Homo sapiens: one gene and its partners. The protein of the gene in region 4 interacts with the protein of the main gene of each other region in a pairwise test. Each region holds a gene or a part of one and is shown on either strand. Other genes may lie near its edges.

The links.
Region 1: the proteins of PTK7 (region 4) and ILKAP interact in a two-hybrid assay, tested with the Homo sapiens proteins (one study listed by BioGRID and IntAct).
Region 2: the proteins of PTK7 (region 4) and CDC14A interact in a two-hybrid assay, tested with the Homo sapiens proteins (one study listed by BioGRID and IntAct).
Region 3: the proteins of PTK7 (region 4) and MTMR10 interact in a two-hybrid assay, tested with the Homo sapiens proteins (one study listed by BioGRID and IntAct).

What each region holds. Positions count from the first base shown.
Region 1 is NC_000002.12:238,199,891-238,208,306, reverse strand, and holds the start of ILKAP (integrin-linked kinase-associated serine/threonine phosphatase 2C), read left to right. Parts: upstream 1-4,611; 5' UTR 4,612-4,753; coding exon 4,754-4,808; intron 4,809-8,416. UniProt on the Homo sapiens protein: Protein phosphatase that may play a role in regulation of cell cycle progression via dephosphorylation of its substrates whose appropriate phosphorylation states might be crucial for cell proliferation.
Region 2 is NC_000001.11:100,515,622-100,521,313, forward strand, and holds the end of CDC14A (dual specificity protein phosphatase CDC14A), read left to right. Parts: intron 1-2,629; coding exon 2,630-2,659; 3' UTR 2,660-4,656; downstream 4,657-5,692. UniProt on the Homo sapiens protein: Dual-specificity phosphatase. Required for centrosome separation and productive cytokinesis during cell division. Dephosphorylates SIRT2 around early anaphase.
Region 3 is NC_000015.10:30,946,629-30,953,628, forward strand, and holds part of MTMR10 (myotubularin-related protein 10), read right to left. Parts: coding exon 6,934-7,000; intron 5,411-6,933; coding exon 5,340-5,410; intron 1,844-5,339; coding exon 1,674-1,843; intron 673-1,673; coding exon 502-672; intron 152-501; coding exon of another isoform or gene 98-151; exon of another isoform or gene 1-97.
Region 4 is NC_000006.12:43,134,661-43,143,080, forward strand, and holds part of PTK7 (inactive tyrosine-protein kinase 7 isoform a precursor), read left to right. Parts: intron 1-4,188; coding exon 4,189-4,322; intron 4,323-4,475; coding exon 4,476-4,611; intron 4,612-4,745; coding exon 4,746-4,865; intron 4,866-7,007; coding exon 7,008-7,157; intron 7,158-7,270; coding exon 7,271-7,421; intron 7,422-7,511; coding exon 7,512-7,639; intron 7,640-8,420. UniProt on the Homo sapiens protein: Inactive tyrosine kinase involved in Wnt signaling pathway. Component of both the non-canonical (also known as the Wnt/planar cell polarity signaling) and the canonical Wnt signaling pathway.

The DNA of each region.
Region 1 (8,416 bases), on a different chromosome or scaffold from region 4:
TCCCACAACCAACAAACGAGCTCCTACTCTCCAAATTAATAACAGAAATCATCCCCAGGTTCGGGGTGCCTCTTTCTTTTCAATCTGATAATGGCCCTGAATTCATTTCTCAAATTATTCAAACACTTGCACAAGCCCTACAAATCACCTGGAAGTTGCACCTCCCCTCTCGACCTCAATCTTCAGGAAAGGTTGAAGAAATGAATGGCATTCTACAAAAACACCCTCACCAGGTACTCACACCAAACACATAAAGACTGGGTTACACTTTTGCCTTTAGCCCTTCTAAAAATTCGGGTGCTCCAATGTAAACTTCTAACGCTCAGCACCTTTGAACTCATGTATGGGAGACCATTTGCCCCTCTGCTCCACCTCAGGGTCAAGCCCCACCTCCACCAATCCCTCTCATTTCCCCTCTTGTACATACCATCTGCCATTTCATTTAGGAATATGCTGACAAATACCTGCCACAACCCATCACCGACTCCTTTAATCCCTCCCTACAGCCAGGAGACTGGGTTCTGGTAAAATACCCCAGTCCTACCCTCAATTCCTGCTTCACACCTAAGTGGAAGGGACCTTACCAGATCATCCTTACCACACCCACAGCACCGAAACTCCAGGGACTCCCCAGCTGGTTTCATTGTACTTCTCTCAAGAAAACAGACTTCCCTTCACCACATACCCAAACAACCAAGTCTGAAACCCCTTCGGCCTTCTCTCGTGTCTCCCAGGACCCACTTCTCTTCGCCTCACCCAAATCCCTGAGGAAAAGGAGGAGAAATCCACATAAGCCGCTTATGTCTCTTTCTCTCCCAAACTTTCATCACTTCCTAACTAACCTTGTTACAGACCTTCAGTGGTGCCCTTAGGAAGCTCCCATTATACATCCTGATCAGCTCGTTACTGCTCTATGGGACCTATGGCTTCAAGGAACTTTCCAGGACTTTACTCCTACCCAAATAACTTTTTTCGCTTTTTGCTTGTTTCTTTCAATATAAATTCCCTAATCACATCAACCTCATCAATACAACCACTCCTCACTGCTCTCAAACTAGAACGCTCTATAAACCTTACACAATCTCTCTTGCGGCAAGCTAACTCTTCCTTTGCTCTGGAATGCTGGGTGTGTTTATCGCTGTCTTCCTTAGCTTACACAGCCCTTCCTACATTCCTTCATGACCTTTTAACAGGAAACACAACCCTAATTTATAAACTCCAAAAAGGAGCTTCCTTTTTTGAAAGAGCTGACACTCTAGTCGGTGATTATCCCACTTCCAGGGCCGATCAGGCCAACAAATTATTTCAAACCTAGGATAACTCCCTACAGCGCCTTAAGCCCCACGGCCCTCCCATTGAAGGGCCCATAACTAAACACACTCCTCCTCTTATAATGAGCCTCACTTTGCTTTTCAGCCTCGGAGGGAAATTTCCCTGTAGGGTCCTTAACATCTAACCTATGCAACCACACTATCATTGTTAAACACCCCTCTGACCATCAAACTAACCAGGCTAACTACCAAGTATCACCTGAAGCGAACGGAGCATTTCTGCAGCTGGCTCGTTTGACAGCCTTTCCCTCAGCCAATGCCTCCAGCCTAACCTGTGCTGCTCCTAGTGCCCACAATTTTCCTTGGCTCAATATCAATAGTGCAGCATCCGACCGCATTAAATCTGTAAAAAATAACTCTTCCTATACCTCTAGTATAGTAGGTGTCTCCCAGGCCTCCTCCTTGTCCACCTGGAGTAATGAACCACAGGAAAGAACAAACACCTCATCTTTAATTCACTTATTTTCTGTCCATATCTCTGCTTGTATTTACAATAAAGGCTTGTTCTTTTTGTGTGGTCTCAACACATATTTCTTTGTCTCCCCATCAACCAGACCAGAACCTGTACCCTAGTTTATCTTTCTCCCTCCATTGGACTAGTTCCTCCTAATCAATCTTTACCCGTTCCATCCATCCAATATGTTAGGAAGAGGAGAGCCATCCACGTCATTCCTTTAATGGCTGCCTTAGGTATAACCTCCGGGCTTGGGTTGGGAGCAGGCTGATTCGCCACCTGCTTAACATACTTGAAATCTCTTTCAACAGAACTGCAGAGTTCATTAGAGCATATGGCCCAAAGCCTTATAAGAGTCCAAGGCCAACTAGACTCCTTGGCTGGAGTAGACTCCTTGGCTGGAGTAGTCCTCCAAAATAGACAGGAATTAGATGTTATAACAACTGAAAGAGGGGACCTCTGCCTCTCATTCGGTAAAAAATGTTGCTTCTATCTCAATCAGTTGGGCCTAGTAAGAGACGCTGCTAAAAAACTTAAAGAAAGGGCTAAAAAGCTAAGAGAATAACAAGACAACCAAATAAATTACTGGTTTAAAAACAAAGTCCTAATATGGGTCATCCCATTCCTGGGCTCTCTCCTAAAAATATGCCTAGGAATAATGTTCTTACCCTGCTTAATTAACCTTTTTCTAAGTTTTTTTTATTTTTTTGAGACGGAGTCTTGCTCAGTCGCCCAGGCTGGAGTGCAGTGGCGAGATCTCGGCTCACTGCAAGCTCCGCCTCCTGGGTTCACACCATTCTCCTGCCTCAGCCTCCCAAGTAGCTGGGACTACAGGCACCCGCCACCATGCCTGGCTATTTTTTTTTTTTTTTTGTATTTTTAGTAGAGACGGGGTTTCACCATGTTAGCCAGGATGGTCTCGATCTCCTGACCTCGTGACCCACCCGCCTTGGCCTCCCAAAGTGCTGGGATTACACGCGTGAGCCACCGCGCCTGGCCACCTTTTTCAAAGATTTTTAACCAGCAGGATCATGGCCATCTCACAGACAATTACCCAAAAACATCTACAGACAGCGTTACTCCTACAATCAATCTGAAACCAAAGAACTCTCTGCTCACTCCCCCAGCAGGAAGTAGCCAGAAAAAATGCGCTGCCCCTTGTCCTTTTCATAACTATAGAGACTGGATTGATAGAGCAGGAGCATTGCCATCTTGGACAAACACCACCTTTCTAAGTTCCCCTTGATTAAAAAACCACCTAAATCCTACCCCAAAACATCAGCCTAACGGCTAATGTCAGCATAACCAGAAATATTCCAACCCTAAGATAAACCTCTCTTCAACCAGAAACATGCTAACCCTGAAATAACCTCTCCTCCAATAGCCTCCCCTCCGACCAGAGACATTCCAACCCTGCAATAAACGTTCCCCCACTTCCAAAACCCTTAAATATCCTTAGTCTGTAAGAGAGAATGCTTAGTCTGTAAGAGAGAGCGCTCCTGATCGAAATTGGCCAGAATCCCCTCTCAGGTTTATTCTCTGAAATAAACCTTTTAATGTTGAGCCGCTTTTTGTATTTATTTCCTCTTTCTTTAACGGTTACAAGCATTGTTACTTGAGTGTTTCTGCTGTAATGGAGGAGGCAGCATGAATATCTCAAACGGTTGCTAGTGAGAAGCCACGCAGATGAGAGGCATGAAGCCTTGTTGGGCTCCCTCCATGTCCTACAGCCAGAGAGCGTCAGAAATACATCTGCCCCAGAATGAACTGGGCTGAAAACTCTTTGCATGGAGGGAGACCACATAACCTGGGGAACTTGGGTAAACGATGTTGGAACGGAGGTGTAAGATTTGGGTTTGTGTTAGTTGATTTGGGGAAACATTTATGGAAACGGGCCTTTGCTCCGGATTGGATGTCAGGAAGAGGAGGATTCCATGATTGGATATCTTGATGAAGCTTATCTAGACGGCAGGAGGACGAGACAAAGGCTAAACATGTAATGGTAAAGAAGCAGCAATCACTCTTATTGGCCAAGACGAGGGGAATGTGGTCACTTTTGTGGCTTGGACAGTGTTCCTGTTTTGTCTGTGTTCACACTTGATTACACAGTGGTCTGTTTTTTTCTCTTGATCTGTATCACGGCCTGATGTTGGTGTTTTATGAAATTGTTCACATTCAAAGAGAACACCCAGGCCTAGCTGTTTGTGCCAGACCAACCCCAAGTCCTGGCTGCAGAACCAGGCCAGCTCCCCGATGTCAGTGGCCGCCTTTCTCTTTACAGGCATGGAGGGGGACACCATTAAGGAGGAGCCCCTCTTCTCCGCTCCCCACAGACACCAGTGGGTGCAGACAAGTCAGGGAATGCCTCCTTTCCCTCCGGCATCTTTTGAGGTTTCCGTCCTGACGCCCAGGGCCGCTCCATCCAAGCCTCGGTTTCTCAGTCTCTAAAACAGGCCAGAAACCAGGCACGCCGTGGTGAAAGGACGAGCCGAAGAGATGGCAAGAGCTCCAGAAAGCCTTCCCAGGCATCAGGGGCTGCCCTTGAGCTCAGACGTTTCTCTCTGGACAGGGCTTCTTGGACAGGAACTCAACGAAACTTGACAGAAATCGGACACCCCCAGCCAAGGAAAAGCAGGAGGGGCCCGGGGTTCGCCAAGGCGGGAAACACCGCGGGGCCCAGACGGCGCCGTCCGCCCGGCTCGCAGTCGGGGCGCGGGAGGGGCCCACGCGCATGCGCACCGCCCCGCCCCCAGCCGCCCCGCCCAGCCCGCGCGCAGCCCTCTGGGGCGGCCGGGCCACGCCGCGCGCCGATTGGTGGCGTCCGGGACTCTCCCTGCAGGTGACTGACGGCGCCGGCCGCCCCTGCCCGTCGCCCGCCCGCTGCTGCCGCCCGCCCGGGGTGTGGAGCCCGGCCGCTGCTCGCGGGCTGAGTGTCTGTCGCTGCTGCCGCCTCCACCCAGCCTCCGCCATGGACCTCTTCGGGGACCTGCCGGAGCCCGAGCGCTCGCCGCGCCCGGCTGCCGGTAAGCGGCGTTGCCGCCGGGCCGGCCAGGGAAGGGAGAGCAGGCGGGATGGGGGCGGCCTGAGGCCCGGGGCGGCTGAGGCGGCGCCCGCGCTGGGAGGCGGCGGGCGGCGCGGGCTGCACGGGGCCTGCTCCTGCCTGGCCAGGCCCCGTCCGGCCCACTGGCGGCCCTGTCGGAGGCCCGGTCGCTCGCGGAGCTCGGAGAGGCCGCTCCGCCATTTTCGCTACGCAGGAAGGAAAGGGCCGAGCCGTCGTGGCCACGGCCCCTCTGCGTGGCGGTGAAAGGCGCCGGCGCGACCGCGTGGGCCGACCCGAGGGACCGGCTCTGAACGCCCGGCGGCACCGCGGGCCCCCGCGCCCCGATTCCACCCGCGGCCTGGGCTGCCTTGCGCGTCGCCCGCCCGCGGCTTCCGGGCCGCACTTCACCCGCGGGCTGTGGAACGGCCGCGTTCCGGGCCGGTGCAAGTTCAGGGGCTTGGCGTTTTTATTTGCACTGGAGATTGAATTAATCACCATCTTAATCCTTCGTGTTTTTGAAGCCTGGAAGACAGGATGCCTCCTCTGTCATCCTGTGATTTTGTGATAATTAACAGTAGTTTTTTTTTTTTTTTTCTGGTCCACGGGAAGTTCCCCCTCTCCTTGAAGTTAAGGGGTCCGCTCATCTCCTAAGCGCTGGCCCCTGCCAGTGGGAGTCCCTGTGGGCTGTGGTTTGAGCTCAGCATCCTAGCAGCTTGAAACAGGGCCTGTGTTAATCCCTGCGTCCTGTGGGTTACAGTCTCCGGGTTTCATCTGTCAAAACGCGTGAATATTTCATATGCAAGACTTCCAGCTTGATGTTGTAGTTTAGGGCCTTATTACAAAATTTAACTTGGGGGCAGAAAACCTGGAAAACTTAAGACGTTCAGATTTCCAGGCCCACCTCAGCCCCAGTAAATCCGAATCCCTGAGAGTGGGGTTTCCGAATCTGTTACTAAATCCCCAGGCCAACCCAGCGGGGGCTGGAGACCAGTGGTTTGGGAGCTGCTGTTGTAGGGTAGACGGAGGTGAGTAAGGCCCAGCCTTCGCTTTCTAAGAGCTGCTTTCTGAAGGGTACTAATTACGGTAATTAAAACTGGCAAAAGTTAATGACTGTGGGAAATGCTGAGGACTCTTGAGGAGGGATTGTCGGGCACCGAGAGACTGGGGAAGGAGGCAGTGTTTGAATTGAGCTTCCAAGGATGTTCAGGCTTGTGATTTGCAGTAATTCTGGGCGAGAAAACATTTTATTTTATTTTACTTTTTGAGACGGAGTCTCACTCTTGTCGCCCAGGCTGGAGTGCAATGGTGAGATCTGAGCTCACTGCAACCTCCGGGTTCAAACAATTCTCCTGCCTAGGCCTCCCTACTAGCTGAGATTACAGGCGCCGACCACCACACCCGGCTAATTTTTATATTTTTAGTAGAGACGGGGTTTCACCATGTTGGGTAGGGTGGTCTTGAACTCCTGACCTCAGGTGATCCGCCCGCCTCGGCCTCCCAAATTGCTGGGATTACAGGTGTGAGCCACCGTGCCCTGCCCCCACTGACCGTTCTGATGGTACAGAGCATCTCAGTAACTGGTCCTGGAGTCTTTGAACTTGACTCAGCCATTCATTTTCAAAATAACCACGGTTTTAGCTGTGGGTAAAAATTGGATTTGTGTAGCAGTCTTTTTTCTCTTGTCAATGGAGTATAATTTCTATCTGAATATATTTGGGACAGCATTTGGATTCACCAGTGTGCGTGTAAACCTATGAGTCTTAAAATCTCCATTGCTTTTTACCTGCAATTAATTAGGTTCTGCTCAGGAGCAGGCTCCCTTGACTGACAAAAAACCTGGCAACTCAGAATCTCATAGGTTGGCACCTTAGCAGCCTTTTGCCAGATACAGTGGGAAAGGTACATCCTGTTGCCGTTTTTTCCAAACTCAGTTTCCAACCTTGACTGAGCTGAAAGGGTGGCAGAGGGGGTGCATGGTGTTTAAACTGCTGACCACCCTGAGATTGGATTGGTCAGCTGCTCCCCATCTGCCAGGAGGGCACTGACATTGTCAACAGGTCCTGCTTGGCTGAGTGTATTTTTAAAAATAGCTTTAAAACGAAGAAGATCTCAGAATTTGTAGATGATTGGAAGCTGAGAGGGATAAGTACTAAAATGAGTGACAATTGGGATCCATAGTTATCATTGCAGGCTGTTAGCTACAACCAACAAGATGAGATTTGACAGGTTAAAATCGTTTGTACAAGAACAGAATCTGGTTTCACATACTTGTGAAAATACTGTGATTTAAAAAAAAAAAACATACTTTGAATAAATCATATTGATTGCTAAAGTGAATGGAATAATGAGTCTAAACTGTGCATCATGACCCTCACACATGATATGTGGGTACCACAAATCTCTAATGCAGTGAACAATAAAAGACCTCGTTATTTTCCCAGAGCGCAAGAAAAGTTGTTCAGAAAGTGTAACCAGACTACTTGGTTTAGAATCCAGCTCTTCGCTTACTAACTGTGCCTTCTGTGGCTATTCCTACATGTGTAAAAAGGGGTGACACTTGCCACTGTTACTGTACAAATTAGTACAGTATGTATGGTGCTGCACATAGTGTGGGGTAGAATGTATAGTGTTTTATAGATGTTAGCCAGGGTTATTATTTTTGAGACAGCCTCATTGTGTCGCCCAGGCTGGAGTGCAGTGACATAAACACAGCTCACTGCAGTCTCGACCTCCGTGGGCACAGGTGATTCTTCCACCTCAGCCTCCTTGGTAGCTGGGACTACAGGTGCGCACCACCACAGCCAGCTAATTTTTGTATGTTTTGTAGAGACAAGGCTTTGCCATGTTGCCCAGGCTGCTCTCGAACTCCTGGGGCTCAAGTGTTCTGCCCACCTTGGCCCTCCCAGAGTGCTGGGATTACAGTGGTAAGCCACTGTGCCTGGCTGAGCCATTAACAGTTGTTTAAAAGTGGAAAAACGCAGTCTTAAATGAATTATGGGAAAGCACTGAGTGTCCAAAGGGAGAATACTACACTGCTTATATCACATCAAATGTATTAATATTTTGTTTAGATCTTTTTATTTTTGTTTTAAACGTTGCATCTAATGTTCCCACCCCTAAACCTCTTAAATGTTTATAATCTAGAAAAATACATAGAATGCACTAAATATTTCAGGTATTTTGCTAAATTAGTAGTTTTCATCCAAGCCCTTAAAAGTTTTAATTGCTGAATGAATCAAGTTTTTTAAAGGAGAGATGTATATATTTTACCTAAAAAAAAGTGTTTGTTCATATCAGGCAGAAATGGAACTTTCCTATGTCATACCCATAAAAGTGCCGACCTGATGTCTTTAAGATTGGCAGCTTATATTGACAATCCATGTATGTCAGTTGAAGGTGTCATGGTTTAAAATTGCTTCGCCAGTAACTTGATTTCACTTTTATAGGGTGGTTCTTTTACTTATTTGGTTGCTACACTAGTACTTTAAAAATTGATGGTCAGTTGTTGAGGAGGAAATAAAATATTTGATGGCCACACCATCTTAAAAATACTTTAAAAAAATTGGAGGCTGGGCTCGATGGCGCATACTT
Region 2 (5,692 bases), on a different chromosome or scaffold from region 4:
TGATCCACCCGCCTCGGCCTCCCAAAGTGCTGGGATTACAGGTGTGAGCCACTGTGGCCCCCTTAGTGCATCTGTATTAAGATTTTTATTTTAGATTGAAAATGAAAGGAAGTTAATTTGTTACAAAATACTGATGTCAGAATAATTTGCTGAACCCTTTTTACTGATCTTTCATTTCACTTTCCTTTATACCATATAAAGAAACCATGGAACATGTTTTGTTTTGAGGACTTTGGTATTGTATTTTTATCCTCTAGTGCTTAATAGATACAACTTATGTTCAGTAATTATTTGTTGAATGAATTGAACTGGTGGGACAGAAGGTCAATTCGTTGGCCAAATGGTGTCATCATTTGTTTGCAGAGGCCTGCAGGGCCAGTTAGGCAACATAAGAGAGCAAACTAGGGGGTTGGAAAAGGAAATAGTGGGGCTTGTGGTGAGCTGTATCTGAGCCTAGATTAAACACCAGCCAGAGTTTTTGAGCTCTGTGGAAGTAAAGGCTTTGGATAGAAGACTAATGAATATATTCTCCATATGAATAATAGAAATCTTTAAAATGTTCTAGACTATTTCTGTTTTCCAGTTCACTGGGTACTGTGATTCACTAAATAAATATGTAAATAAATGAATATATATATGTGTGTGTTTATATATATAAATATATGCACACACACATATTTGCCCCTCTATATTGATGTACATATGAAATACTTTACCCTATAAAAAAGTTGGTTTAACAAAGGTCGCTTGTCTAATGTTTATTTGCTACATCTCTGTTTATTGATAATTGATGGAGCTTGCAAAAACAACTTTGTTCTAAGTTATATGCAGTTTGAAGAATTTCTGATTTCTGTTAGTGATAACATGCACAACTTTACTAATCGGAACAAAAGTAAAAGTTAAATATTCTCAAGAAAGCACTAGCTGAGCTACACACACACACATACACGCACAACATACCTTTGTGGCATTCTTATAGCTGGGGGACTTAACTGGCTCTGCCCTCTGACTGCTTGCCAGACTTAGAAGAAACCGAGAAAAAGCAGGTAGAAAAATGTTTATGCTCTAATTGCGAGTGTGGTAGCTGGCGTCCCTCAAGTGGAATGTATATGGGCTTCAAGGCTTTTGACCAACTTCACTGGACTTTCTTAGGGTCTTACCTCTTTTATTCGCACTGTGGGTTCAGGTATATTTATAGTATAGTGCTCTGATTCTTGATCATCTCACACCTATTTTGAAGTATTAGCATGAACCACATACAAGAAAGTCAATAGCCAAACCTTTTCCATTCTTCCTACAGCTCTTGAAACTGGCAGCCTTGAGAACCACCCATTTCCCTTACTACCTCTCACCTAAGCCTTTCCTGGTGCACGATGTTAACTTTACACTATGTATATTACTATTTAATGTCGACACCGCTGTCTTTTCATTTCACATCTGTTATGACATTGTGGCTTTCGCCCTTTGCGGTCAGGGACCATAACTCTTTGACATACTGTGTTAACAGGGACTTACTCAGGAACAGCCATTTGGCTGTTCATGGGGTGTAAAATTCACTGCAGTTTTGAAGCTGAGAAAAGATAGCTTGAATCCTTTTGTAAGTTCTTTGGAAAATGGACAGATTCTTTTTTACTGATAACCTATATCATCACCAAAATGGACCTGTCTTATAATTGACTAGACCTGTTAATGAAATGTTACAGACTAATTTGAGAAATAATTATTGGGTGGGAGAAAAGGGCATTTACTAGAAAATCAAGTAAACTTTGTTATCCTCAGGTATTTAATTGGAAGAATTGAGCAAAAAATTTGTTAATGTTTAGATTGATTTATGTTCCTTTTTCTAATCACTGTTTCCTGCTAAAAAAAATAACTGTTTGGCAAACTTTCTGTAACTCTCTATCTTTTCCTGGTTTATGTCTGTTGTCCCAGGCATTCTGATTACATATCCCAATCACAATCCTTTTATATGTTAGTATCTAATGTGATGTGGAAGAATTTGTATGGTTTACTTGAAAATTGCCTATTGTTTATTAAATTCCGACAGCAAGACTCTTCTGCATAAATGTTTTTGGGTCTTAAGATCAGATTTCAAGCTGGTAGTACTTCATTTCCCCTTAAGGGAAAGGATGTGTAAGATATTTATAAATTCAAGCATGCTTAAGGAATTTATTTAAATGGCTGCTAATTCTACTGCATTAGAAGCATGCCATTGATATGTACTGAATTAAATTTAAGGATATATCATCTCAAAGTATATTCTAGTAATCTTTAATTAGTTAAAAGTATCTTTTAATATTGTTAAGTAAAACTCATTAATTGTAGAAATGCTTAGAGATGAGTTTAGGCTACCTACCGATTTTTAAATTAAAACTTAATTTTTTAATCACTATAAATAAATTAGTAAACCTTTTAAAATATAAAGTTTTCTTACAATCACTTTGCGTAATTGAATATCTCATTCTTACCTAGCTAATGCTTTGTGTCTCCTGTCTTTTTGTTTCTGTTTTGGCTTAGTTTATTTCATTGATCTCTAAGCTGTCTTGTGTGGAAGGGAGAAGCTGCATGACTTGCTAGAAGTTTTACATGTGATGGAATTTAACCTCAGTTTATGTCTCTCCCTGCACAGTCCCTTCAGTCTGAATATGTTCATTACTAAGGCCTTGCCACTCCAGTGAAAGCTGTTCTTCTCTTAGACACAATTTCTTCATCTGGACGAGCAGTGGAGAGGGAAAGCAACTTCTTGCTGGAAGAATATCTCTGCCTTCTTACCTTAAATTAAAAAGAGCACTAAGATAACACCTTCAAGAGACTTGAAAACAGAAAACTGGTTAATGACTACTATAAATGCACTGAAACTATGTTTATGGAGATTTCCATACTTTTAAAGACAGTTTTAATGTTGAATTTGGTATTTTGAAGGGTTATTTTTAATGTATTTTGGTAATACATTTATTATTATATTTACATGTACAGTGTTACATTATATATGTATTGTGAACTTTAAAAGACTATTTTGATAAATTTATAAATATATAAAATTATGTAAAAACTACACTATATTTTGATTTAGATTTTCCTGCTGTTTGCTACCAAAAATTTGTATTTTAAATCTGTTTAGTTTTAGTATGGTTTTGTCTCTAATGAATAAATAATTCCTTCTTATTAAGAAGAAGTAAGGGAGAAAGTTTTTAGAAAGTGATTTTTATGCTCGCACTATAAATATGGCAGGTCAGTTCATTCTTTTGGGAAGTCAGTTTAGTTACACTGAGTTTATCCAAGTTTATCTCTACCAAGAGTATAATGGCATGGGATGGCTTATTTAGGACAATTCCCTTTCCTATTGTTTTTGTTGCTGAGCCAATTTGAGTTAGTTTTGCATCCTGGGGGGCTTTAAAATACAGCATGCAGTGAAAGATCAGAATTCACTGAATATTTCTTCTGAGAGCATGGTTTCATGGTTTTTCTCTATGAAATGACTCAATATTCCAAATGTTTTTTTTTCCTTCCTCCTTTCAAAAGAGTTCTTAACCCAATTAGGATATCCTGCTTTGGGTATGAGGTTGTTGTTGCCTGTAATCACACATGGTTTGACATCAGTTTTAAATCAATGGAGAGAAAAAACTGAAAAAGATGCTGCTAAGTAGTTCTCTGTATTAAAGGAGATATTTTTAAAACAGGGTACAACCCCCTGCTGCACACGCTAGCATATCTGGAACCTACTATGAAAATGAAAGGACCCTTATAGGTACTCACAGCCCTTTCATGTAAGTATGATCTGATATTTAGGTCTTCAGAAGCCTGTAGGTTTCATTTCTATGAGGAATCGAGGAGCGTTACATCCTGATATCCTTCCAGGCTGCTTAAGAATGGACTGCTTCGACACTGAAAGTGCTAGTTAAATGGATTCATATGAAGTGCTTTACTCCCAACCATTGAGTTATTTATAATGTATTTATTAGGGGAGGGTACCTTGAGTCTATTATATATGCTTCATCAAAACATCTTGTTCATGTTTTATGTTTTTAAAAAAGGCATTTGAATGAATGTTTGACTCAGGTTTGTTAAATTAACCTTCAGTAACTGCAGTACCAAAAATTACACTCAACTGATGAAAAAAACGAATTGTATGATTTAGGAATCAAAAACTAAAATAAGTGGAATTATGTATCTTTTCTAAAGTTAAAAAAGTAAAATATTTTATTATGAGTTATTATAAAAATTGGTTAATTGTATAGGAAGATGACAGTATTTTTTTCAAGTTATCATAAAAAGTAATTCAGATGACATTTGAGAAGTAGGGGAAAGGGAATCATGTTGACAGTTTTAGTTCTGTGAACACTAATTTGTGTGAAGCTATTAAAATGATTGTAAAGTTGACTACTGTAAATTTCCCATAATTATGTGTGTATATGTGTCATATGTATGTACATGTATATGTCTAAAAATTACTTTACACATGTGCCTACATAGACACACCAAGAAGTGGATGTATATAATATAGAAAGTATATAGCAAAGTAATTTTACTCTGATAATAAAAATTGTTTGACATGTATTTTGTTATGAATAGTTTATCTTCCAAAAGATATTTTGCTCTATTTTAAAGTGTAGAAGAATACACTGCTAATAAATAATAAAAGTTTTATTCAATTTACTTATTTTTTGGTGTTTATAATTTGAATTTTTGAGTTATCAATGTACTGAAGTCTCTTTATAATTTTATTTTTGGTTCAGTGTGGTCAGTGCCTTGAGTGTTTCAAGATCTCTATTCTGGATTTTAGTTTAGCTTTTATTGACTTTCTAGGTTGTGGCCATTGCCTGAAATACATGACAGTGAGCTCACAGAAACCTTATACTTTGAATTTCACAAAAATCATATAATGTTAGGTTCTTGCTTGCTTTCCCTTTATTTTTTTTACTGTCAATAAAATACTGATCCTGATCAGTGTTTTGGGTCCTGCTTAGTCATTTATGACTACTGATGACTATTGTGTGATTGATCACCAGTTCCTTTTGAAAAAGAATGCCATTTTTCCTAAATGAGAAATTATAGAAATCAGTTAGAAGAAACCTCACACCTGTTGGATCTATGCCCTGAAAAGTCAGTTTGGGAGGAAGAAGCTACACTATTTATTGGAGATATTTTATATAGTAAACTGGATCTCTTTGGGTTATGATGATTCTGAGGTTTTTTTTTCCTTAAATTTTTTTTTTTTTTTTTTTTAGAATGCAAAGGAAAGTTTGTGGGTGAGAAGGTAGTTTTACATTTGGAATTGGGATCTGCAAATAGCTGTCCTAACAACACTGCATGAAACAATTGGGGTACCAAGGTTTTCATAGGACCACATCTTAAAGAAGGAGATTTCTTATGAATTAATGAACCTGTTTCACAGGGCAGAAGGAAATCTTTTTTTGTACAGATTGGGTTTTTATGAAAAAGAAAGTAAAAAAAACAAATCAATTAGCTGGTTTCAGCAGATTTCTCACCTATTGAGTTTACCTGTTTCTTTTTTATCCTTAGATGTAAAATGATTTATAAATCTCAAAACACACCTGGGAAAACTATCTATGTGATTCAAATATAGCAGGAACATGAATTTACCAACTATACACAAATGTATTTTGAAAATTGTTTTTACTTCTATGCTTTCTTCAGTGACATGTTAAACCATTAATATGTTGAGTCTAAT
Region 3 (7,000 bases), on a different chromosome or scaffold from region 4:
GGGTGAAATGGCACTTTGGTTCAGAATGGTTTCAAGTTTGGCTTGAGACCCTGCTTAGTCATAAATCCTCTACATCAATGAATTGTGACCAGAAACTTCAAACTCGTGAAGGAAAATAATCTTGTTTTGTACAACTTTTTATCCTACTGACCTAGGAAATAAATGTCGTGTAACAGGGCTTTTGTTTTTTACTACCCAATAGCCCAAATGTGAAATATAAATACAAAAGCATGACATTTAAGGTGGTTAAAGTAATTTACATCTTTAAAGGGGTTTACTACAAAACATTTACATTAGAGTAAAACAAAAAATGTTCATTCATAAAAATAATTTCCTAGATTTTTGTGTCTTCAAAATAATCCATTCAGAAATTTCAGCTGAAAATGGCAGTAAGAATTTTAAATCATAAGATTTTAAATAGGCAGTGAATTATACTTCAATTATGCCTCGATAAAGTTGTAAAAACAGGGAAAACGTAGCCACAGCCACAGGGTTGCTTACCGTGCTTTGCTTCACTCGCTGGTGAGGGGAGTTGAACAGGAAGGTGCCAAACAGTGAGATCCGGGTGCTGTCATACAACACTGCCAGGTAGGTTTCGGAGAACTCAAAAGCTGCAGGATATTGTTCTAACAGCTGCCAGGTGGCATCCAAGAATAGCAAAAATAAAGGAGACTGGCAAATACAAAGAGACAATGGGATCATTTAATGTTATCCTTCAGCCGTTCACATTTACTTCAAAATGTACTGCTGATGTTAAAGAAGAGATGAATGAGAAAACATCGAAGCCTAAAACACTTGCCTTCTAAGCTGAGCTATACACATCTATCAAACCCAAGAAGTAACATTCAACCGTGATAAACATCACAACCCTTATTTGCCCAGTACATGTAACAAGTTGAAACAGCAAAGCACACAGTTGAGCGGGTTGCCACTATATGAAGGGGGAAGAGCAAAATATGTGTTTAAGCATGTCTTAGAAACAATTCTTTAGATTATATAACAAAACAAAACCATCAACCAAACTTCTCTAATGTTTGGTTGATCCTGTAGGCTCAGCATCCAGAAAACATCCCCATATTTCAGAAAACACTTTGGGATGAGCCTAGGTCACGTGGTGTGTCCCCAAGTGCAGTAGCGGGTGACCACTATTTTTTATGAGACACCACAAGTCAAATGGCGCTCTCTGAAACAACCTTCTAAAAACTGATCTGACTGACCTGCCTGGCCGGTAAGATATTTGTAAGGCCTTCCGCAGCCTAACTAGAGATCCGAGGCAGCCACTAACTCCACAGCTGTTGCAAAGGTGGCCCTCTCAAACTTTTCATCTTAACCTATGTATCCCATTTTAAGAAAATATGATATTCCAAAAGTGATTTTTCAAAATAGCCAATGTGCTTGTTATCTGTTTTTCAGTATTTTATTCAGAATTTTTTCAGTAGTTTTCCACTTAGACAAATTCAATAGACAACTTTTAAAAATTTCACCTTCATAGTTACGATAATCTTTATAATAAGTACATCAATTTGAACTCTAATCCATTAGTTAGCTTTGGACTAAGGAAATTAAGTTGTACTAAATACAGTATTTTTTAAAAGCCCCTTCATCTTTTAATGACACAAATTTTATTTTGTGTATCCTTAAAGACTGATAAAAAGGCATCAAGATTTTGTTACCTCTTTCTCTGATCTCTTTAGATGGTTGCATCTGTCTAGAAACTGATATCCTGCCATGACCCACTCCTTCTGTATCAGACTCTGAAATCCAGTAATTGTCCTAAAATAGGGATCCAGCATCACTTGAACAAGAGAAGCTACACAACAGCTCAAGTCTCTTCCTTCCTCCTCTGTTAATAAAATGGAAAGAAAATGATTACAACATAGAAAAATGCTGAGAGAGAAAGGGAAGGAAAGGTAAACTAGATAATTTAGTATTCTGCACACCTAGGCTGCCTTCCAAATCTGTATAAGGAAATTTTACTGGATTCCAGCAACTCTAAAATATTACAGACTTGTAGATAAACTAAATTAGCATTTAATAGGAGATGGTCTTTTATACATGGATATTTGCCAGATAATAGAAGCTCATCACTCATACTTTTTACATTCGAATGGTTTGTGGTAGAAAATCCGTCTAGACTCCATTCTACTGCTCTTTTGTCAAGGTATTAAGTATAAGGTAATCTTTCTACTGACAGGCCACATGGCAATACTGAGAAGTGAATGGGGAGAGTGGGACTGTTCACTACCAACTGAAGCTGTGGCAAACGATTCCCTCCTGTCTTTTATAGTTGTTGTCCTTTCCAATAAGGCCAGAATTGCCACGCTATCAAAGTCAGCCAGGGAAATCAGAAGACAACTATTGACCAATATCCCTTATGATTACAGATGTAAAAATCAATAAAAATATGAGTAAACCAAATTATCCAGGAATGCAAAGTTGGTTTAACATCTGTCAATTGTAGTAACGTACCACAGTAATAAAGGACAAAACCAACACGATTATCTCATTAGATGCGGAAAAAGCATCTGATACAATTCTACCTTCATTCCTGATTAGGAATAAAAGTAAACATATTTAAACTGATCAGAGACATCCACAAAAACCTACAATTAATGTTATTCCCATTTCACTGGTGAAAGACTGGATACTCTCTCCCTAAGATCAGGAAGATGATAAGGATGTCTGTTCTCTACACTTCTCCATCTCATTGAACTGGAGAATCTAGCCAGAGCAATTAGGCAAGAAAAAGAAAATAAAAGGCATTCAGATCAGAAAGAAAAAGGTAAAAACTGTCTTTGAAGACAATATGATCCTGTATGTAAAAACTCCTACGGAATCCACAAAATAACTACTAGAATTAATAAATGAGGTCAGTAAGGTTACAGAAATTCTGTACACAACAATCTGAGTACATAGTAAACCTGAAAATGAAATTAACAATTATATTCACAGTGACATAAAAATAAAATACTTAAGAGATTTAACAAAATAAATATAAGACTTACATAATAAAACACTGCTGATAAAATGAAAGATCTAAATAAATGAAGCAGCATAATTCATAACAGCCACAAAGTGGAAACAACCCAAATGTCCATCAACAGGTAAATGGGTAAGCAAAATGCATTTACAAACAGTGGAATACAATTCAGAAATAAAAAGGAAAAGATTGCTGATACACACTACATGAATGAACCTCAAAAACATGTATGTTGAATGAAAGAAGCCAGCGGCAAAAGGCCACATATTGTATGATTCCATTTATATGAAATGCCCAGAAAGGGAAAATCTAGAGACAGAAAGATTAGTGGCTGCCTGGAGCTGGGACTTTTGGGGTGATGAAAAATTTCCAAAACTAGACTCTGTATATTTACTAAAATTTACTGAATTACAAATTAAAAATGGGTGAATTCCATAGTATGTAAATTTTTAACAAACTGTTTAAAAATAAACGTATATAAAAATGCTAGTAAAATGAAGGTTCAGTGCTACTTCTGAGGCCTTTTCTATTACAAATGCATGGAGAAATGGAGGATGAGTAGGGTTCTCCAATACGATGAGAACACCCACTGGATGAGAGAAATTGTGATTATTAGGCTCTGCATGCATTTGTGAGTTAAACACACACTCTGACTGTATCAGTTCAGGATTACTTTATATGACACATTACTATTTGATTTTTTTCTAAGAGTCTTAAAGATTTTTGCCTTGTTAAAGTCAATCAAGTTTGGCAGTTGTTAAATGTACTTCTGCAAGCCTGGCCAGGCACGGTGGCTCACGCCTATAATCCTAGCACTTTGGGAGGCTGAGGTGGGCAGACCACCTGAGGGCAGGAGTTCGAGAGCAGCCTGGCCAACAAGGTGAAACCCCATCTCTAGTAAAAATACAAAAATTAGCCGGGCGTGGTGGTGCATGCTTGTAATCCCAGCTACTTGGGAGGCTGAAGCAGGAGAATCGCTTGAACCCAGGAGGTGGAGGTTGCAGTGAGCTGAGATCGTTCCACTGCACTCCAGCCTAGGTGACAGGAGCGAAACTCCATCTCAAAAAAAAAAAAAGTACTTCTGCAAGCTTAAGCAACATTTTGTATTCATATACTATGCAACATGAGTATATAGTCTTCCCTCAGTATCCATGGGGAACTCATTCCAGGGCCTCCTTTGGATACCAAGATCCACAAATGCTTAAGTCCTGGATATAAAATGATGTTAATATTTGCATATAACCTATGCACATCCTCCTGTACACTTTAAGTTACCTCTAGATTACTTATAACACCTAATACAATGTAAATGCTATGTAAACAGTTGTTATACTATACTGTTTAGAGAATAATGACAACAAAAAAAAAGTCTGTTCATGTTCATTACGGCCAAAGCTTTCCCCCGCCAATATTTTCAGTCCTGGGTTGGTTGACCACAGATGGGGAAGCCATGGGTACAAAGGACCTACTACTGTATTATACGAAGGTAGTTTTTAGTCTATTGAACTTTATCTGCAAACTTACAAATTCTATTAGCTGTAAGTTATTTAATATGTAATTATCCTTTGCTTAACTGAAAGATTTTTACATCACCGTTTATTCCTACCAAATATTACATTACTAGCTATTCAGCAGTTCAGTCTAAATTTCTTCATCTCAAACTGCTTCCTTAGAGTCATAATCTAGCATGAGCCAGAAGGTATTTAAACTAAAACAAATTTGTACAAATTAGACAGCAAAATTACAGAGAGAGAATGCCCTGTCAAAATTAACACTAAGTATTAATCCATTAGGGGATGGGACCCACCCTTCCCATAAAATAGGAAGGATAATTTAATAAAGGGTAAAAACTGGACTACTTTCTATTCTTCTATTTGCAGTCCTTGTGCCACTGGTTTTTATTTATTTTTTTTTTGAGTCTTGCTGTGTTGCCCAGGCTGGAGTGCAGTGGTGCGATCTCTGCTCACTGCAACCTCCGCCTCCTAGGTTCAAGTGATACTCCTGCCTCGGCCTCCCGAGTAGCTGAGACTACAGGCGCACACCACCACTCCTGACTAATTTTTGTATTTTTAGTAGAGACAAGGTTTCACCACGTTGGCCAGGCTGATCTCAAACTTCTGACCTCAAGTGATCCGCCCGCCTCGACCTCCCAAAGTCTGGGATTACAGGCTTCAGCCACTGCGCCCAGCCTGTGCCACTGTTTTACTCAAATGATGTGCAAAATCTGTAATGTATTTGATGGTACTGTAGTAAATAAGAAATAGCTAAAACTGATGTGATTTACTTGAATGGGGACAAGCAGTAAACCAAGGCTGGCTGGTATGGTGGTCATGGTGCTTTCAGGAGTTACTTTAGTTACCTTGTAGGACTACAGAGAGATGTTTGCTTTCTAGCATGTATACAAGTTCTGCTGAATGCTTAAGGAATGCCCTGAAGAGAGAAAAGGAAAAGCAGTGTTAAAAATCAAATTTCCACTACAAATACATAAAGTACTTGAAATCAAGCAAATCTAATTTCTCACTTTACAGATGCTCTCTGATCATGATATTCCCATAACTCATGACCCATGATAACCCACTGTAAGCTGAAAATACCCTAAACTGAGACTGTGTGGCTGACTGGCAGCTGTGGCTCCCTGCTGCTACTCAGCATCACAAGAGAGGATTGACTGCTTTCTACTGAATGCACATAGCTTTCGCATTACCGTAAAGTTTCTTTAGTTACTTATACGATTTCTCAAAGGAGTATATTTTGTAATTTTTGTTTTCTTTTTAAGAGACAGGCTCTCATTTTGTCACCCACACTAGAGTGCAGTGGCATATCACAGCTCATTGTAACCCTGAACTCCTGGCCTCAAGTGATCCTCCTGCCTCCACCTCCTGAGCAGCTAGGACCACAGGCACGAGCCACCATGCCTGCCTAGTTTTAAAATTTTTTTGTGGAGATGGGCATCTCACTATGTTCCTCGGCTGGTTGTGAACTCCTGGCCTCAAGTGATCCTCCTGCCTCAGGCTCCCTAGGACAGCAGGCACATGCCACCATGCCTGGCTAGTTTCCAACTTTTTTGTGGAGATGGGGTCTCACTGTGTTGCTCAGGCTGGTTGTGAACTACTGGCCTCAAGTGATCTTCCTCCCCAGAGCTTTGGAATTACTGGCATGAGCTACCACAACCGGCCCCACTTTGTAAATTTTTTTTTTTGAGATGGAGACTTGCTCTATCACCCAGGCTGCAGTGCAGTGGCGTGATCTTGACTCAATGCAACCTCTGCCTCCCAGGTTCAAGTGATTCTCCTGCCTCAGCCTCCTGAGTAGCTGGGACTACAGGTGCGTGCCACCATGCTTGGCTAATTTTTGTATTTTTAGCAGAGACAAGGTTTCACCATGTTGGCCAGGCTGGTCTTGAACTCCTGACCTCAGGTGAGCCACCCGCCTTGGCCTCCCAAAGTGCTGGGATTACAGGCATGAGCCACCACGCCTGGCCTCATTTTGTACTTTTTCATCAGGGAAATTCATAAACCCTTTATGAAAAGGAAGGGGTTGACTTATGACAAAACTATAGAGATTGAGAAGAGATTAGTGGTAGTCAACAGACACAGATGGCGATGAGGGTGCACCTATAAGAAGGCTAGCACAGGGGAGCCTTGTCATGGAACAGGTCTGTATCTCCCTGTGGTGGTGGTTACGTGAACCTACACACGTGATAAAATCGCACAGCTGTGTTAAGGGCATGCACACAGACGACAGCATGTATGAACTGGTGAGTAAGAGCTATCCAGTGTCCCAGTGTCAGCTTCCTGGTTTGGATGCTGTACTCTAGTTACGAGATGTTACTATTGGGGGAAGTTGGATGAAGAGTAAGTACATGGCCCTCTGTGCTATTTTTGTACCTCCAGTGAGTCTGTAGTTATCTCAAAATAAAAAGTTAAAGGAAAAGAAAGTAAAGAAGTACAAACCTTACATATTCTAACCATCGAGTATTTTCCAGTGAAGATAACCATTTCTCTTCAGTTTCTTCAAAAG
Region 4 (8,420 bases):
TCCCAGCTACTTGGGAGGCTGGGGCAGGAGAATTGCTTGAATCCAGGAGGCAGAGGTTGCAGTGAGTCGAGATCGTGCCATTGCACTCCAGCCTGGGTGACAGAGCGAGACTTTGTCTCAGGAAAAAAAAAAAAAAAAATTTAGCCAGGTATGGTGATGCACACCTATAATCCCAACTATTTGGGAGGCTGAGGCTGGAGGATCATTTGAGCTCGGGAGCTGGAGGTTCCAGTGAGCTATGATCACACTACTGTACTGGAGCCTGGATGACAGCAAGACCCTGTCTCCAAAAAAATGTCTAAGACATTGCTGGAGCCTTGAAAAAAAGAAAAAAAATGCAGAATTCGGGGCCCCACTCCACAGCTTCCAACCCAGGCTCTAGGGGTGGGACCCAGGTAGATGTGTATTTAACAAGTGCTCTGGGTGATACTTCATGTGTGTTCAAGTTGGGGAACTCTGGCTTTGATCAGTCATTCCACAGATGCTGACTGAGGCTGACACTGAGCCATGCCAGTGTCCCTTGCTGTGCTCTGAGAAGGAGGCCTGTGGCATTTGAGAGTGTGTGATGCAAACAGGGCCAGATCAGGTGCTGGGTGTTAGAGGGTAGAGCCCAGAAGACGGAGAGCTCTGGGAATGCATTCAGTCAACAGAGATTTGTCGAGCACCTTGTGCTAGCTCTTCCCAGTACTGGATGCAACTGTGAACAAAGCAGGCAGAAGCCCCTCTCCTTGTGGAGTTCATATTCTAACAGCGGGGACAAAGCCAGTAAGAAAAACTATCAAATGAACAAATATAATTTTAGGTGCCAGTAGAACAAGGGAGAACAATGAAATAGGGCAAGTGATAGAGAAAGGGCAGGGCCAGTGAGAGTTTAGGGAAGACTTCTGTAAAAGGTGCATTGGAGTTGGTATTTAAATTAAGAAGGGAGCCAGCCATGTGATAGGCCCTGAGATGGAAATGGGCTTGTATGTTGGAGGAACAGTAGTCGCCTGTGTGGCTTGAGTTGAATAAACGATGGTGAGAGGGGTTGAAGTTGCCTGAGAGGTGGAAACTAAATCCCATAGGCCTTGTAAAAGCATAGTAAGGACTTTGGCTTCGGCATCAGTTATCCATTGCTACATAGCAAACCACTTCAAAACGTGGTGGCACTTTGGGAGGCCGAGGCAGGTGGATCACTTGAGGTCAGGAGTTTGAGACCAGCCTGGCCAACATGGTGAAACCCCATCTCTACTAAAAATACAAAAATGGCTGGGTGCAGTGGCTCACGCCTTGTAATCCCAGCACTTTGGGAGGCCGAGGCAGGTGGATCACGAGGTCAGGAATTCGAGACCAGCCTGACCAACGTGCTGAAACCCCGTCTCTACTAAAAATACAAAAATTAGCCAGGTGTGGTGGCATGTGCCTGTAATCCCAGCTACTCAGGAGGCGGAGGTTGCAGTGAGCCGAGATTGCGCCACTGCACTCCAGCCTGGGCGACAGAGCGAGACTCTATCTCAAAATAAAATAAAAAATACAAAAAAAAAAATTATCCAGGCATGGTGGCACATGCCTGTAATCCCAGCTACTTGGGAGGCTGAGGCAGGAGAATCGCTTGAACCTGGGAGGTGGAGGTTGCAGTGAACAGAGATCGCGCCACTGCACTCCAGCCTGGGTGACAGAGCAAGACTCCAACTCAAAAAAAAAAAAAACCAAACCGTAGTGACTTGAAACAACAAACAACAGCCGTTGACATGCTTATGATTCTGTGGACAGGTTCAGGTGGGCCCGCTCGTCTACCTGGTGTGCTATCGGCTGGGTGTACACGTTTGCAGTCAGCTGATGGGTGAGCTGGCCTGGTCCCTGGCGGCCACACTCACCTGTCTGGCAGTTGACTGGGGCTATTGACCAGGGTGCCTTAGTTCTCCTCCACATGGCATCTCCAGTAGGCTAGCCAGGCTTCCTCACCTGGCAGCTGGGTTCCGAGAGGGCAAAAGTGGAAGCTGCAGTACTACCACTGTGTTCTGTTGGACAAGGGAAGTCACAGGCCACTCAGATTCCAGGGACTAGAAAAATACACCATGACCCAGTTCAGTGGCTCACGCTGCAATCCCAGTATTTTAGGAGGCCAAGGTGGGAGGACTGCTTGAGCCTAGGAGTTTGAGACCAGCCTGGACCACATGGCCAGACCCCGTCTCTACTAAAAATAAAAAAAAAATTAGCTGGGCCTGGTGGTACGCGCCTGTGGTCCTAGCCACTTTGGAGGCTGAGGTGAGAGGGTTGCTTGAGCCTGGGACGCTGAGGCTGCAGTAAGCCATAGTGGCGTGACTGCACTCCAGCCTAGGTAACAGGATGAGACCCTGTCTCACACACACAAAAAGAAATAAACTCTACCTCTTGATGGGAAAGTGTCAACATCACATTGAAAAGAGTTGAAAGGGATGGGAGGATTGTTTATAACTATCATTGCAAGCAGCCTACCACACCACATTGGATGGGAAGGTCTTGCAGGGTTTTGAGTGGAAGACTGATTTTTCAGAAGATCGCTCTGGCTGTTTTGAGACTAGAATGTTAGGGCCAAGAGTATAAACAAGGAGACCCATACTAAGTAGATGACTATAATAGTCTAGGGGAGATACTGAAGGAGCTTGAACAGAGGCAGTAGCGGTGGGGGTGAGAGGTGGTCAAATTCAGGATATATTTAGGAGCCCCAGTAGATAGGGTTTGGTAGAACGAGTGTGATGGGGGTGGGGTATAGAGAGAAGACAAGGCTAGCTTTTTGGCTTTCTTAACTGACTAGATAGTTCTATTGACTGAGATAGGGAAAATGAGTGAGCAGGTTTTGGGGGAAGTCAGGTGTTCTCTTTAGCACACGTAAAGTTTGAGATGCCTGTTGGATATCCAGTTGGAAATGCCAGTAGGCAATTGGATTTATAGGAATCAGGATGTAGTTTTGGGAACCAACCATTCATGTTGTATTGAAGGTTGTGGACTGGATGAGTGAGTGTTGCTAAAACAGAACAGATTTCTGAGGACTGCGCCTTGGCATTTTATGGTGTAATAAGAAGAACAAGGGTTTCAGAGTCATATAGACCAGAGTTTTAAATTCTGTCACTATTAGGTATTAGCAAATCACCATTACTTCTTCTTTTTTTATTATTGTTATTATTATTTTTTATCTTTTATTTGAGATGGAGTCTCACTCTTTCGCCCAGGCTGGAGTGCAGTGGCGTGATCTCGGCTCACTGCAACCTCCACCTCCCAGGTTCAAGCGATTCTTGTGCCTCAGCCTCCCCAGTAGCTGGGATTACAGGTGCCCGCCACCACACCCGGCCAATGTTTTTGTATTTTTAGTAGAGACGGGGTTTCACTATGTTGGCCAGACTGGTTTTGAACTCCTGACCTCAAATGATCTGCCCGCCTTTGCCTCTTAAAGTGCTGGGATTACAGGCGTGAGCCACTGTGCCTGGCCACCATTACTTCTTTGAACATCTGTTTTCTTAGCTGTAAAGTGCGTGTTGGAATACATACCTTGGGGGGTTTGTTTTTTTTGTTTTTTTAGAGATGGGGGTTTCACTCTGTTGCCTAGGCTAGAGTGCAGTGTCTTACAGCAGCCCTCCCGCCTCGGCCTCCCAAAGTGCTGGGATTACAGGTGTGAGCCACCACTCCCTGCCTACCATAGGGGCTTATAACTAAGATAATGTTAACTAAGTTAATTAATGTGACAGTTAACTAAGATAATGTTCAAAAGGTGCTGGTGGCCGGGCGTGGTGGCTCATGCCTGTAATCTTAGCACTTGGGGAGGCTTGAAGCCAGGAGTTTGAGACCAGCCTGGGCAACATAGCAAGACCCCATCACTACAGAAAATAAAAAAATTAGCCAAGTATTGTGGTGCATGCCTGTGGTCCCAGCTATTTGGGAGGCTGAGGTGGGAAAAATCACTTGAGCCTATGAGTTCGAGACTGTAGTGAGCCATAATTGTGTCACTCTACTCCAGCCTGGGTGACAGAGTGAGAACCTGTCTTAAAAGAAAAAAAATTTTAAAAAAGGTGCTGGCACCTGGGTCTTCCGTAAAGGGAAACTCCTGCCATCTGAGGAGCATGGGGCTTCTGAACTCAGGGCCTAGAATGGTAGTAGGATTTCTTGGAGATGGATCCTTTAGTTTTGGAGACCTGTGAAGCAGCCTTCACTGTTTCCTTCCTGTCTGTCTAGCTGTGCCCTCCTGGCTGAAGAAGCCCCAAGACAGCCAGCTGGAGGAGGGCAAACCCGGCTACTTGGATTGCCTGACCCAGGCCACACCAAAACCTACAGTTGTCTGGTACAGAAACCAGATGCTCATCTCAGAGGTGAGAAAGAAGAGTGTTGCTAGTGGATGGGCGGGGCCTTCCCTCCACTTGCCCTCTTCTGTGCTCACCTCCATAGCACTCTTACCCTGGAGGCAGCCTCCAGGGAGAGGTGGGTGTGGGTTCAGGCTCTGAGGCCTCTCACCTGTGCTGCAGGACTCACGGTTCGAGGTCTTCAAGAATGGGACCTTGCGCATCAACAGCGTGGAGGTGTATGATGGGACATGGTACCGTTGTATGAGCAGCACCCCAGCCGGCAGCATCGAGGCGCAAGCCCGTGTCCAAGTGCTGGGTGAGCCAGCATGTCTTGGGGGAGCACCCTTCCTGGCTAGGCAGGAGAGGAAAGGGGAGGGAGCAGCAGGCCTGGCCACGGCCTCTCCAGCGGCCCCAATTCCTCGTCTTTCTACCCACCCTCTGCTGAAACAGAAAAGCTCAAGTTCACACCACCACCCCAGCCACAGCAGTGCATGGAGTTTGACAAGGAGGCCACGGTGCCCTGTTCAGCCACAGGCCGAGAGAAGCCCACTATTAAGTGGGAACGGGCAGGTGGGTACAGTGCCGGCATAGGGTAGGGGCAGGCAGGCAGTTCACTGATCAGATACATACCTGAGGGCTGCTGGGTGCCCCGCACTGTGCCAGGAAATGTGGAGATTAGACAAGCAGTGCAGGGCTGATGTATAGTTTAGTTAGGAAGGAAAAAGCCAGACACAGAAGAGGTCAGATTATAGCCTTGGACAACATGGAAGACAACTCAAGGCAACAAGTGATTGGATTGGTTCAGACAGTGCTGTAAAGTCCTCTCTTCCCCTTTTCCAAAATAGTTTATCTTTTCCAACATAAAAATTACATGGAGGCCGTGCATAGTGGCTCACGCCTGTAATCCCAACACTTTGGGAAGCCGAGATGGGTGGGTCACTTGAGGCCAGGAGTTTGAGACCAGCCTGGCCAACATGGTGAAACCCCATCTCTACTAAAAATGCAAAAGTTAGCCAGGCGTGGTGGCACATGCTTGCAATCCCAGCTGCTTAGGAGGCTGAAGCAGGAGAATCGCTTGAACCCAGGAGGTGGAGGCTGCAGTGGGCCGAGATCATGCCATTGCACCAGAGTCTGGCTGACAGAGTGAGACTCTGACTCAAAAGAAAAAAGAAACAAAAGTTACATGGGCTCCTTTACAAAATACTGGAAGAGGCCGGGCGTGGTGGCTCACGCCTGTAATCCCAGCACTGTGGGAAGCTGAGGTGGGTGGATCACGAGGTCATGAGATAGAGACCATCCTGGCTAACATAGAGTAGTGAAACCTCGTCTCTACTGAAAATACAAAAAATTAGCCAGGGGTGGCGGCACGCATCTGTAGTGCCAGCTACTCGGGAGGCTGAGGTAGGAGAATTGTTTGAACCCAGGAGGCGGAGGTGGCAGTGAGCCGAGATTGTGCCACTGCACTTCAGCCTGGGTGGCAGAGCGAGACTCCATCTCAAAAAAAAAAAAAAAAATATTGGGAGAAAAAATGTACAGTCCTGCCGTTTATCATCTTTGGGTGTATGTCTTCTTTTTCTGTGCATATGTTTTTCTTTTTTTACCTAGCAGTTTTATTGTATATATAGTTTCAGTTATTAAATTTACATGATTGGCTGAGTGTGGTAGCTCATGCCTGTAATCCCAGCACTTTGGGAGGCCGAGGTGGGAGGATCGCTTGAGCCCAGGAGTTCAAGACCAACCTGGGCAATACAGGGAGACCCTGTCTGTACAAAAAATTTAAAAATTAGCCAGGCATGGTGGTGCATGCCTGTAGACATGCTTATTGTAGAATTAGACAATACAGATAACTATGTAGTTTTTAAAAATATTTTTTAAAATTATTTATTTTTATTTTTTTTGTAACGGTGTAATTTTATACCCTTTTTTACTTACCATTGTCAAGCATTTCCCCACATCTTTATACACTCTTCATGAATATTTGTTTTGATGATCCTAATAATATTTCAACAATTGGATTCACTGTAATTTACTTAACTGTTCCTTAAATGTTGGAGATTTGGGTTGTTAACCAGCCACCCACCCACCCCCTTTTTTTTCATTGCTGCAATAAACATCTTTAAGCCAAAGTTTTTTTCTGGATTTAGGTTTATTTCCTTTGGGAAAGATTCCCAGAATTGGGATAATTATGCACGAAAGGGGGTATGAACATTTTTATAGCCCTTGATGTGAGTTGCCAAATTATTTTTTAAAAGGTTGGACCAATTTTGACATTTCCACCTAGAGTGAGAGAGTACAGTTGTAGATTCTGAGGAGGAAGTAGGCTCCCTCTGCTCAGGTCTGGGGGAACTTTCTGGGAGAGGTGAGGCTTAAAATGGATCTACAGCCTGGGATGGTAAAGAGCGGGAATGGGCTCTAGGAGGGAGAAGTGATGGGCAGCGGAGTAGGAACAGGGCCGATCTGGGCCCAAACAGAGTCCGGTTTGGCAGACGTGGAATGTCACACAGGGCAGTAGGAGGAAGAGGTGAGACTGAAGAATTGGAAGAGGGGTAAATAACGGAGGGGCTTCTAACACTTGGCTCAGGAGTTTGGACTTTGCCTGTGGGTGGTCAGGAGCGATGGTGTGTTTTTGAGTAGAGGTGAGGGACTGAAGGCATTGCCAGCTGTCTGTGTAACCCTGATCCTTCCCATAATTTCCCTTTGTTACCCCTGCAGATGGGAGCAGCCTCCCAGAGTGGGTGACAGACAACGCTGGGACCCTGCATTTTGCCCGGGTGACTCGAGATGACGCTGGCAACTACACTTGCATTGCCTCCAACGGGCCGCAGGGCCAGATTCGTGCCCATGTCCAGCTCACTGTGGCAGGTGCGACCGTGGCAGGGCCCTGGGGCTGGGAGGGCCCTCTGGGGTAGCACCGTGTACCCTGCCAGCCCCTTGGCTTACCCCTCCCTGCGCCTCGCTGGTCTCTTTTCTTCCAGTTTTTATCACCTTCAAAGTGGAACCAGAGCGTACGACTGTGTACCAGGGCCACACAGCCCTACTGCAGTGCGAGGCCCAGGGGGACCCCAAGCCGCTGATTCAGTGGAAAGGCAAGGACCGCATCCTGGACCCCACCAAGCTGGGACCCAGGTAGGGCCACCTCTCTCCCACACCCGTCCCTCCTCTCCTGCAGCCCCCCTCCCTGCGAGCTGGCCAGCACTATGGCTTCTCCCCCGACAGGATGCACATCTTCCAGAATGGCTCCCTGGTGATCCATGACGTGGCCCCTGAGGACTCAGGCCGCTACACCTGCATTGCAGGCAACAGCTGCAACATCAAGCACACGGAGGCCCCCCTCTATGTCGTGGGTATGGGCTGGGGAGGGTTATGCTGCACAGGAAGTGGTGGGCCCAGACGTTTGTCACCTTGTACTCAGCCCCTGTGTACAGAACATGGCACAGAAGCCATTTTTGTGGCAGCGGTGGGGATTCGGCCGTCTCACCATGCTGCTGCACAGTCTTAGAGTCCTTGCTCAGAGCCGGGCTGTCGTTTATTTAACATCCAACGGTCGGTGTGTGTGTGTGTGTGTTGTGGGGGAGTGGGGGGGTGTTCTCTTCCTACAATGCTGCCTCCCAGGTTCCTGCAGCAGCCACACATATCTCTGGGTGGCTGGGGAGGAGGACCAGGTCAGAATGCAGTAGGACAAGGTTCTTTTCTCCAGGAGGCCCAGAGAGGATGATGGGTCAGGTAAAAGGCCCTGCACTTAACTCTCTGCCCCTGGGAGACTTATTTCTCCTCTGGGGACTTGTTTCTGCATCCACAGGTGAAAGTGGTTTAAATGAGAAGCTCTTAAACTTTCTTGGTTTGGCAGCAGAGTTATTTTTCTAGACAAAGTATAATGTGAAAGTTTAAATGGATGAAAATGAACTGAGGAGGCCCCCTTGGTGGGAGCCACTGGGGTGTGTGTGGCAGTTGGGGGATCCTGCATGGTCTCCCTTCATTCCCCTAATGCCTCTTGAGGCCCCTCAGTGTGGGCCATTAAAAGGCCCCTAGACCAGCAGATCCCTTCTACAGATCTGCTTATTGAAAAACCTGCTCTGTGCCAGGCAGTGCCTGGAATTCTAAACCTGAAGCTCCCAAATGCTGCTC